3 linked regions of the Homo sapiens genome follow. The protein of the gene in region 2 purifies or fractionates together with the protein of the main gene of each other region. This does not show direct contact. Each region holds a gene or a part of one and is shown on either strand. Other genes may lie near its edges. The genes, in order: TF, EDIL3 and ITGAV.

Region 1 (3,655 bases), on a different chromosome or scaffold from region 2:
TGAGGGATTGGGCACTTTCTCTGGGTTTAGCTTCTTGGTGATACTATGTACTGAATGATCAAAAGCTTGATTATTATTTCCATTTTTGCTCATCTCTGGTATAATTGTCTACTCCAACACATGGGCAGCTCATCTCTCTTTCTCTCTCAGCTCCATTTTACAAGTGAGAAATATGAGGCACAGAAAGGTTAAGTCACTTCCCTGGGCCACATAGCCAGTAAGTCATGGAGCTGGGATTTCAGTGCAGACATTCCGGGTTTATTTCTTATCATTACACTGTTACTTCAGGTTATGTTCCTTTTTGACTTTGTGCTTCTGTAAGCCCTCATCTTTACATCAACAGGTCCCTTGAAATATTATAGCTGCCTTCTTACTAGATCTATAATTTATTTTCTTTTTATGTAAATCCTTAAAGTGAGCCCAACCATCTTTTATTTAGACACTTAAACACATAGTTTTACTCCTTTTTTGTTTTAAATGTCTTTAATCAAAATGATTTTTCCAGAAGCCCTTGCCAGTTCTCTATGAAGATTTCTTATTGATCAAATTACAAAGCAGGCCAGGTATAGTGGCTCATACCTTGTACTTCCAGCACTTTGGGAAGCCTAGGCAAGTGGATCACCTGAGGTTAGGAGTTCGAGACCAGCCTAGCCAATATGGTGAAACACTGTCTCTACCAAAACAAACAAACAAAAATTAGCTGGGCTTGGTGGCACATGCCTGTAATACCAGCCACTTGGGAAGCTGAGGCAGGAGAATCGCTTGAACCTGGGATGCAGAGGTTGCAGTGAGCCGAGATTGTACCACTGCACTCTAGCCTAGGTGACAGAGCAAGACTCTCAAAAAAAAAAAAAAAAATTACAAAGCAAAAGCTATAGTTCCATGAACTTTGTTGTGTTACAATCAAGTAATAAGACAATAGTATTTCTAAATGAAATAAAATATGTTGTAAGACAAACTATATCAGCAGTCTCGCTCTTGTCCCTCAGGCTTGAGTGCAATGGCTCAATCTCGGCTCACTGTAACCTCTGCCTCCAGGGTTCAAACGATTCTCCTGCCTCTGCCTCCCAAGTAGCTGGGATTAAGGCGCCTGCCATCACACCCGGCTAATTTTTGTATTTTTTTTAGTAGAGATGGGGTTTCACCATGTTGGCCAGGCTGGTCTCAAACTCCTGACCTCAGGTGATCCACCCGCCTCGGCCTCCCAAAGTGCTGGGATTACAGGCGTGAGCCACCGCACCCAGCCAATTTTAACCATTTTCAAGTGTACATTTTAGTGGCATTAAGTACATGCATTCACGTTGTTTTATAGCCATCACATCTATCCATCTCCAGAAACTGAAACTCTTTACACATTAAACAATTACCTCCTATTTCTCCCCCACTCCAGCCCCTGGTAGTCATTATGCTACTTTCTGTTTCTATAAATTTGACTATTCTAGATACTTCATAAAAGTGGAACTTTGGGAGGCCGAGACGGGCGGATCACGAGGTCAGGAGATCGAGACCATACTGGCTAACACGGTGAAACCCCGTCTCTACTAAAAATACAAAAATTAGCCGGGCATGGTGGCGCGCGCCTGTAGTCCCAGCTACACGGGAGGCTGAGGCAGGAGAATGGCGTGAACCCGGGAGGCGGAGCTTGCAGTGAGTCGAGATCGCGCCACTGCACTCCAGCCTGGGCGACAGAGCGAAACTCCGTCTCAAAAAAAAAAAAAAAAAAAAAGTGGAATCTTACAATATTTGTCCTTTTGTATCTAGCTTGCTTCACTTATGTTTTCAAGGTTCATCTCAGTGTAGCATATATCAGAGTTTCATTTATTTTTAAGGCTAAAAATATTTCATCATTTGTGTTTACCACATTTTATTTATCTATTCACTCATCAATGGATATTTGGGTTGTAAAACATATTTTTAATATACCACAATACAAAACAAAATTAACAGACATCATGGGCCTTTCTGTTCCACAACAACTAGACCTTATATATGAAACACACTTCGTGGTTTTGTTTAATCTGCAAACACCTTCCCTTCCCCAGTCCTCACATTGTTGAATAAAAATGAAGCAAACAGGGTGCAGCACACCAACATGGCACATGTGTACATATGTAACAAACCTGCATGTTGTGCACTTGTACCCTAGAACTTAAAGTATAATAAAATATATATATATTTTTTAAAAAATGAAGCAAACAAACGAGAGCTTTGCCCATTGCAGTGGGGTTGGGAGAGTGGTCAGGAACCTGGTCTTTCTTTGCCAAGACACCAAGAAATCACTGGTGCCTCGGGGGCTCAGGGAGCCAAAGAGCTAAGGCCTAAAACACAGCGTCCAGCCCTAGAGCTGCAGGGTTCCCAGGGGAACCTGCGCCAGCTGGGAGGGACAGGATTATAATCAAGCAAGCTCTCACAAGTCAAAATAACCAAACCCAGAAGAGGGAAAGCTACAGAGAGAAGGCTGGAGGGAAGCCAAGGGGAAGCCAGCAGAAAGACACGGAAAACCCCAGCGCGGGGATTGAGGGAAGCCAGGCTGCATCTGGATGTTTCTTCCACCTTTTCCCTTCGGCTAACCTACTGCTTGCTTTGTGCTGAGAACTGTAGAATTTCCCACACTTGACACATCTGTCCAAACCTCTGCACTAAGAGACCTGACCAGACTCTGGCATGGCTCCTAGCAGAACAAATCTGTGTCCCTAGGATGGCCCGGTTCCCCTTAAAGTGCTTGCCTGAGAAAACTCAGTGCTGCCAGGAAAATGTACCTGTTTCTTCTACTCAACACACAACTGATGATAGGCCCCTGACCTCCCTTTCCAAGAGAATTTACTAAAAAGGACTTAAAACTGTGAATATGTATCTCTTGAAACTCACAAGCATCTCTCTCAAGGACTGAGAGCCATTCCTTTGCAACACAATCATCAGGATGGATAGAGTGTCTGTCTCGCAGTCTCTGCGGGAGAATAGAGTCCTAATCGAGAGAACTGCCAGCTATCAGACACAGCTGGCCTCCTCACATTTACACTGACCAGCCCTTTCTACCTTTTTACTTCTCTGACTCTACAGAGCCCTGCGTTCTCCCCTCCCTCATTCTCCCTTTAAAATGCTCACATCACCACTGCACAAATCAGAATGGAGCCTAGCTCTTTCCCCCACTGTCAGCAGTTACTGAATGAAACCTATTGTCACTGCCTAAACTAATATCTGGCTGTGCTTATCTTTGACAGCTCCCATCACCCTGGCCTCCCACTAGCAACTTAAATAAGCCCACTCTGCTCTGCCTCAGGCCCTTTGCATATGCTCTTGTTTGCTGCCTGGTGTATTTTACACTGGAGCCCACCCAGGCTCAGTCCTTCATTACATCTCTCTCAGAGAGATGGTCTCTGACCACCCAGGACAAAGCAGGTTTTTCTGTGAGTCCCTGTCAGAACACTCTCCTTTTTCCCTCCATTGTACATCCCCACATTTTGGAATTAGTAGTTTACTTATTCGTGTGTTTTTCTGCTCTCCTGACTAGCCCATGAGCTCCCTGAGGGTAAGGACCAATGTGTTTAATTCACCACTGCAGCCCCATTGCCCAGCACAGGATCTGACATGTACAGATGGGCAGGGGCAACGTTGAAAGAATGAAGAGCATTTTTGTAGACCTAAGAACAAAAAG
Region 2 (3,655 bases):
GCCATAGTAATAGTAAAGCTCCAAAAAAAAAAAAAAAAAAGCATTTTTACAAAAGAAGAAAGAAGAATAGACGTGCAATGCAAAGGGTCAGGATATTATAAGTCATATTCATCCCAATAGTATTGTATGGATCCAGGAATTAATAGATGAAGCCAAAAAAGAAGAGAAAAACAGTTCAAAAACAGCATTGATTGTGTTGTCTCATTTGGAGATGGGCTAGTTTTATTCTCTATGTGAGAAGAAGTGGGCAAAAGGCACTGTGATAGAGGCCGTTAGTGCTCACCAGATAGCCTTGTGCTTCTCTCCAGTGCCCAGCCTCCTTTGCTGTTAGGCTGGAGTCATATAATTAGGTAAGGTGAAACAGATATATACAGAAGTGATATAAGCTGCTTCCATGCTTGTTCTCTTAAACACTCTGCACAGTCTGCTAACTCTCCCTCCCCTTGCCCCTTGTGAATGTGGAGGCCGCCTGCTCCAGATGATAGCTGTACTTTGCAAGCAGCTTGGATCTCTGAGTCACCCCGTGGAAGAGAGCATCTTCAGCAAGCTACATGACTAACGTCAGCCTGTGACATAAGCAAAAAATGAATACCTGTTGTATTTTTTTTAATTGAGAGAAACAAGTAGAGGAAAATGATAGACCTATGAATGTCTGCATTAAACAATAAAGGTTTAACTCTTTAAACATTAATTGACCATTTAATTTAAAATAATTATTATTAAAAAGAAGCTGCAATATATTTTGAAGAAAAGAAAATGAATAGTTATCAAATATCATGTTTGGGGAAAATGTTCCAAACAGGAACATAAAAATAATTTCAAAGAAAGAAGGCTGTGTGACTGACATTTTTCTGCTCTTCTTTATTAGGTTTTCCAGGGAAATTTTGACAATGACACTCACAGAAAAAATGTCATCGACCCTCCCATCTATGCACGACACATAAGAATCCTTCCTTGGTCCTGGTACGGGAGGATCACATTGCGGTCAGAGCTGCTGGGCTGCACAGAGGAGGAATGAGGGGAGGCTACATTTCACAACCCTCTTCCCTATTTCCCTAAAAGTATCTCCATGGAATGAACTGTGCAAAATCTGTAGGAAACTGAATGGTTTTTTTTTTTTTTTCATGAAAAAGTGCTCAAATTATGGTAGGCAACTAACGGTGTTTTTAAGGGGGTCTAAGCCTGCCTTTTCAATGATTTAATTTGATTTTATTTTATCCGTCAAATCTCTTAAGTAACAACACATTAAGTGTGAATTACTTTTCTCTCATTGTTTCCTGAATTATTCGCATTGGTAGAAATATATTAGGGAAAGAAAGTAGCCTTCTTTTTATAGCAAGAGTAAAAAAGTCTCAAAGTCATCAAATAAGAGCAAGAGTTGATAGAGCTTTTACAATCAATACTCACCTAATTCTGATAAAAGGAATACTGCAATGTTAGCAATAAGTTTTTTTCTTCTGTAATGACTCTACGTTATCCTGTTTCCCTGTGCCTACCAAACACTGTCAATGTTTATTACAAAATTTTAAAGAAGAATATGTAACATGCAGTACTGATATTATAATTCTCATTTTACTTTCATTATTTCTAATAAGAGATTATGTGACTTCTTTTTCTTTTAGTTCTATTCTACATTCTTAATATTGTATATTACCTGAATAATTCAATTTTTTTCTAATTGAATTTCCTATTAGTTGACTAAAAGAAGTGTCATGTTTACTCATATATGTAGAACATGACTGCCTATCAGTAGATTGATCTGTATTTAATATTCGTTAATTAAATCTGCAGTTTTATTTTTGAAGGAAGCCATAACTATTTAATTTCCAAATAATTGCTTCATAAAGAATCCCATACTCTCAGTTTGCACAAAAGAACAAAAAATATATATGTCTCTTTAAATTTAAATCTTCATTTAGATGGTAATTACATATCCTTATATTTACTTTAAAAAATCGGCTTATTTGTTTATTTTATAAAAAATTTAGCAAAGAAATATTAATATAGTGCTGCATAGTTTGGCCAAGCATACTCATCATTTCTTTGTTCAGCTCCACATTTCCTGTGAAACTAACATCTTATTGAGATTTGAAACTGGTGGTAGTTTCCCAGGAAGGCACAGGTGGAGTTATTTGTGAGAAGCAAAGTGTTTACTAATGACAAAGTAGTAAACCATTTTCAAGATGAAAACTGATTTCTATTTATTTTGCTTCAAAGGTCCTGAAAAAATAAGCAATTATCATAACAATTTGTTATTGATACTGGAGGTTTCATTGACATGTCTCTCAAATTAAAGCTCACACTGCCTCCATAAAAGTCTTCAACATCTAATTTATAAGCTTTACAAGTATTTATTTTATAAGGCTTAGACAGAATTATTGGAGTTTTAAATTAAGTGTATTGGAAAAGAAAGGATGGTATGTGTATGAAATGTTAAGATCCTACGCAACACTGCTATTTTTTTCCTTTAATATTTGTGCTGCATAACAAAAGCCACTAGACTGTTACTGTCTTGTCTGTCCATGTGTTAACAGCATTTCTTAATGATGTATATATGGAGTGGTCTTCAATCATAGTGAAGAATTTAAAGAGAAAGTCAATTGTATTGGCATTTTTAATAAGAACAAAATTAGTTCGTCTAAGGGGACTGGCTGGCCACATATTTGTTCCTTGCCCATATGCTTTCTACTTCTTGTTCTTATTATGAAATTATGAATTTGAAGCCTCTGAAATGGTGATCAGTTTTCAACATCTTTCAAAAACAAAATTACTATTTCCTCCATATTGCCTTTTTTAGATAACTTTAAAGTTAGGATTTTAAAATATTTGTAACTGGCTAAATTTTAAAGTCGTGACAAATAATTACTTAGGTTCAGAAATATACACACACTTACTCTTTAGCCAGTTTCTTTCAAGGTTTACTGTCCCATCAGATATCTAGCCATTTTCCTTTGCAAATTACATACCTTCTTAAGAGTGTATTTTTAAGATTATTACTTACGCTTTATGATGATATAGTTTTTCAAAATTATTTATAGCTTCATATGATGTTTTGTAATTTTTTCTATTGATACCTGTTTTAAAAATATTTTCCAAGGAAGTTGATTAAAATTATATTTGTTACCTTTTAGAAAAAGCATTGAAATGAGTTTCTCTTGCTTTTTCATTTTCCCTCTGCTTTATATGCTCTTCGCAATACATCATGTCCAACGGGATACCTATTGTTCTCATGACACCCAAAATTGATGAGAGCAAAGGGGTCGCACCATATGGAAATGTTGAAAACTATTGTAAAGTAGTATTATGAAGTAGCTTTTGTGTCATTCATGTCGATGACATGAAAGTGAAGTAAATTTATTCTATGTAAATTCACACTAAAACCAGTACAGTACCATAAGTAGAATACATGTAAGAATCACCTAGTCTTCACTATATTGAGTAAATATAACATGCTAATTTTACAATTAATGAAACTAAACTTTTAAACATCTCCATTATATCTACATCCTTTTGAAGGTATTTATCATAGTTGCCAATTTTAATTTTAGGATTGACTTTCTCTTTCTGAATGACTTCATAAAGTTTGGTGTGAATTTTGAAGACTTGGGTTACTAATGATTGTATCTTTGCTAGTCAACAACTTATGAAATATACT
Region 3 (3,655 bases), on a different chromosome or scaffold from region 2:
CAGCTGTGAAAATGTATGACCTTTTTTTTTAATGCCATGGGTATTGCATAAATAGGAATAATAATAAATAGGAATGTGTAATAATTAGGACACAGTAATAAATTAGGACAGAGAGGTACTATTAATATTATATTTATTAGAATTTTATTACAAGTTGTCTGTAATATATAGCTAGCAGACTCAGTGAATTGGCAAATAGTATTTTGTTTTAATAAGATTAAAATCAGCAGATGTCACCCTGGATAAGTACGTTAGAATGAATTTTTTCACAGATCTCAGAATTGTCGTTGTTAGAATGGAGAAAAGAATAATGTTTTATTCAGAAGAAATAATGAATTTTCCTCTGTTCTTCAATTCAGGAAATGTTTATTGAATTTCATATGTTCTTGGTACCGCTGAAGCCCAGATGATAAAGTAGTGACCTGGACAGAGAAAGTGCTTCTGTGCTGTAGATCCAGTCTCTGTGACTGAACAGATGGGAACAGGACTGAAAATGTTAGCTGTTACACATTTCTTTCTAAAACAGCAGAAATGATAAGAGATTACTGTGTCCATATTGTGGAGACAACACTTGATAAACCAGCTATCCTTTCTTGGCATGGAGGGCAGGCTGATTTTTGTGTAGTCATCTAGATTTCTTGTCTGCTTAATAACAAGGTTGTGAACAAAGGTGAACTCATCCATTCAGGTTGTTTCCTAAAGATGTTTAAATTACTAGTTAAAAAATATCAATTGAACCAATTATTCTGATTATAAAAGTAACAGTATTGTTTCAGTAAATTTTTCATGTTTTAATGGATTAGTTGGGTGATAGCCTTTGATTTTATTATTCCGTGTATTTAACATTGCTTTCTAGTGATTTAAGACAAGTCCTGTTTTCTTAAATTTTTATTAGCAGAGACTACTTTTAAGTACTGGCTTAAACAGAAATAATTTTAAGTTAAGAATATCCATTTTCAAATTGAGTATGATCAAGGAGAGTTATGTACGGCTAATAATTAGAAGTACTAATATCTAATATTGTTTTCCTTCATGCAGGTACCATACATTATCTGTATCATAAAGTTTCCATTTGAAGGTTATTTATTTTATATATACACCCTTTTTTAGGTCAGCTTATTTCGGATCAAGTGGCAGAAATCGTATCTAAATACGACCCCAATGTTTACAGCATCAAGTATAATAACCAATTAGCAACTCGGACTGCACAAGCTATTTTTGATGACAGCTATTTGGGTAGGTAAAACCAAAATTTACTCATTTTTGGAACTGTGGTACATATATCTTATATCTGAGTATGGTCTTTTAAGTAGAAAAATATTTTATGTGAAATAGATTAGGATTTTTTGAAACATACAGAATATACAATTTCAAATTGTTAATGAGTACTTTGGTTATGTTACGTTTCAGTAATTGAAATTGAAGACAGTGATTATTTGTGCAGTGATAATAATAATAGCTAGCCTTTAAGATATGCTTACTGTGTTCTGGGCATTGTTCAAGGTGACTTGGTTTGTATTCACTCATTTAATCCTCACAAGTCAAGCATACTGTATTATTCTCATTTTGTAGGTGAAAACACTGAGGCACTGAGACGCAAAATAACTTGCCCAAAGTCACTCGCTTGTAACTTGCTGTTCAGAGATTCAAATGGAGACAGTCTAACTCCTGAAGTTTTCTTCATGATGTTAAATAAAAGTTTTGGTCTTTAGGACTTATTAACATGTGTTCTCTCTTTCAATTTCTTTATGATATATTAAAACAAGTCATATATGACAGAAATAGTACTTGCTGATTGAGAGAATTTATTTGTTCTTTATGATGAGTTGTAAATTTGGTGTTTTTAACAGACTCCTTTGTAAAGTTAATAAGACAATTGTAGTTTTGTAATAAAAATAGACTATTTGAGTATTTAACTCAGTTTCATTTAAAATTCATATGTCATATATATATGAATCTGTTATGACTAGGGGACAAAATATTGCATAAGTAAAGGAGTTTCTTGAAAATATTTTCAAGGAATGCTTACTCAGCAAGCCTGCTGAAGATAACGTCCTTGTCCTGATGGTTCTCCCCTTTGGTTTCCTGTTTAGGTTATTCTGTGGCTGTCGGAGATTTCAATGGTGATGGCATAGATGGTATGAAGTACTTGAACTATATCTAATCTTTAAAAAAATTAGATTAAGTATTTGAAACATGTGGCATTGAAAATTTTAAGCAGTTTGAGTGGCTGGGTGCTGTGGCTGCAGCCTGTAATCTCAGCACTTTGGGAGGCTGAGGCGGGTGGATCCCTTGAGCCCTGGAGTTCAAGAACAGTCTGGACAACATGGCAAAACCCTGCCTCTAGAAAAAACACAAAAATTAGCCGGGCGCGGTGATGCACACCAGTGTCTAGCTTCTCAGGAGGCTGAGGTGGGAGGATCTCCAGAGCCCAGGGAGGTTGAGGCTGCTGTGAGTTGTGATTGCGCCACTGCACTCCCGCCCGGGCGACAGAGCCGAGACCCTGTCTCAAAAAAAAAAAAAAAAAAGGAAAAGAAAATAAAATTTTAAGCAATTTTAAACCATTGTTATGGAATATAACAGAAGAAATGAGGAAGATGTTAGCACACTGGTGAGAGTCCAGGCTAGGTCTGTGCTGAACTTCCTCTAGTGGCTGCTGAAATTGAGACAGCTACACTTGGCTTCAGTGCCTTTCCTTTCTGCTTCTTTTTAGCCCCCAACACTGTTAGTGATTTCCTTAGCATTTTCCTCCTTGTCTTCAGCAAATTCATTCCTCTGGGAGGAAGAATTAGTGTCTTCTTTCTTTAGGCATCCTTTGTTACCTTCTGGGCCATCTCTGTACGGTTATTACCCCATCCTCTCATTGTCCATCCATCTTCCTTCAGAGCTCCGTTTAGGAATCACAGTCTTTACCTGATTTTGATCACATTTTTGTGCCACAGCCACTTCTACCCCACTTCAGTTTGCTCTGTATTATTTTTCATTACTGTACTACTAAACTAAATGTAGTTTTTCTTCATTCTTAGGTTACTTTATCTTGTCTATTCTTGTTTAACAATATTACAAATGACTTGAGGGCTTATTTGCATATGTTTGAGAGCCCTCCAGAATTTGTATTTTGTAAATTTTGATTTTATAGTTTAAAAATGCTGGGCTATTTATTACGGAGTACCAATTTTTCTAAATTGATTGTTTGTTTTGAACTGAAGTAGTAAAACTTAAAGCTTGCTGACATAGTCACTTCTGGTCTGCAACTTCCAGTGTTGTCCTAAAAAATGAATAATTTGTTTGTTTGTTTGTTTCAGACTTTGTTTCAGGAGTTCCAAGAGCAGCAAGGACTTTGGGAATGGTAGGACAGTTAAAAGGTATTTTTTAAAAAATCTCTAAGTTATCTTCTATTTTACCAGATTTCACATACTTCTATTTTTCCTTCACAGGTTTATATTTATGATGGGAAGAACATGTCCTCCTTATACAATTTTACTGGCGAGCAGGTATGCTTCCAAAATATGATCGTCCTCTCCCACTATAAAAGCAGTATGTACTCATTGGAGAAAATTTGCGAAATAAAACTGTAAAAATGAACTATAATCTCATCAAATAGATAATTCTTCCAACTCTTACCATTTTGGTCAAACTATTATCATTTCTCTTT

What was found.
Region 1: the proteins of EDIL3 (region 2) and TF purify together in Homo sapiens (affinity purification with mass spectrometry; 2 studies listed by BioGRID and IntAct, with this or other methods). This does not show direct contact.
Region 3: the proteins of EDIL3 (region 2) and ITGAV purify together in Homo sapiens (co-immunoprecipitation; 2 studies listed by BioGRID and IntAct, with this or other methods). This does not show direct contact.

Annotation. Positions count from the first base shown.
Region 1 is NC_000003.12:133,749,301-133,752,955, reverse strand, and holds part of TF (serotransferrin isoform 1 precursor), read right to left. Parts: intron 1-3,655. UniProt on the Homo sapiens protein: Transferrins are iron binding transport proteins which can bind two Fe(3+) ions in association with the binding of an anion, usually bicarbonate.
Region 2 is NC_000005.10:83,940,782-83,944,436, reverse strand, and holds part of EDIL3 (EGF-like repeat and discoidin I-like domain-containing protein 3 isoform 1 precursor), read left to right. Parts: intron 1-868; coding exon 869-1,018; 3' UTR 1,019-3,655. UniProt on the Homo sapiens protein: Promotes adhesion of endothelial cells through interaction with the alpha-v/beta-3 integrin receptor. Inhibits formation of vascular-like structures. May be involved in regulation of vascular morphogenesis of remodeling in embryonic development.
Region 3 is NC_000002.12:186,634,972-186,638,626, forward strand, and holds part of ITGAV (integrin alpha-V isoform 1 preproprotein), read left to right. Parts: intron 1-1,110; coding exon 1,111-1,236; intron 1,237-2,093; coding exon 2,094-2,138; intron 2,139-3,305; coding exon 3,306-3,349; intron 3,350-3,437; coding exon 3,438-3,494; intron 3,495-3,655.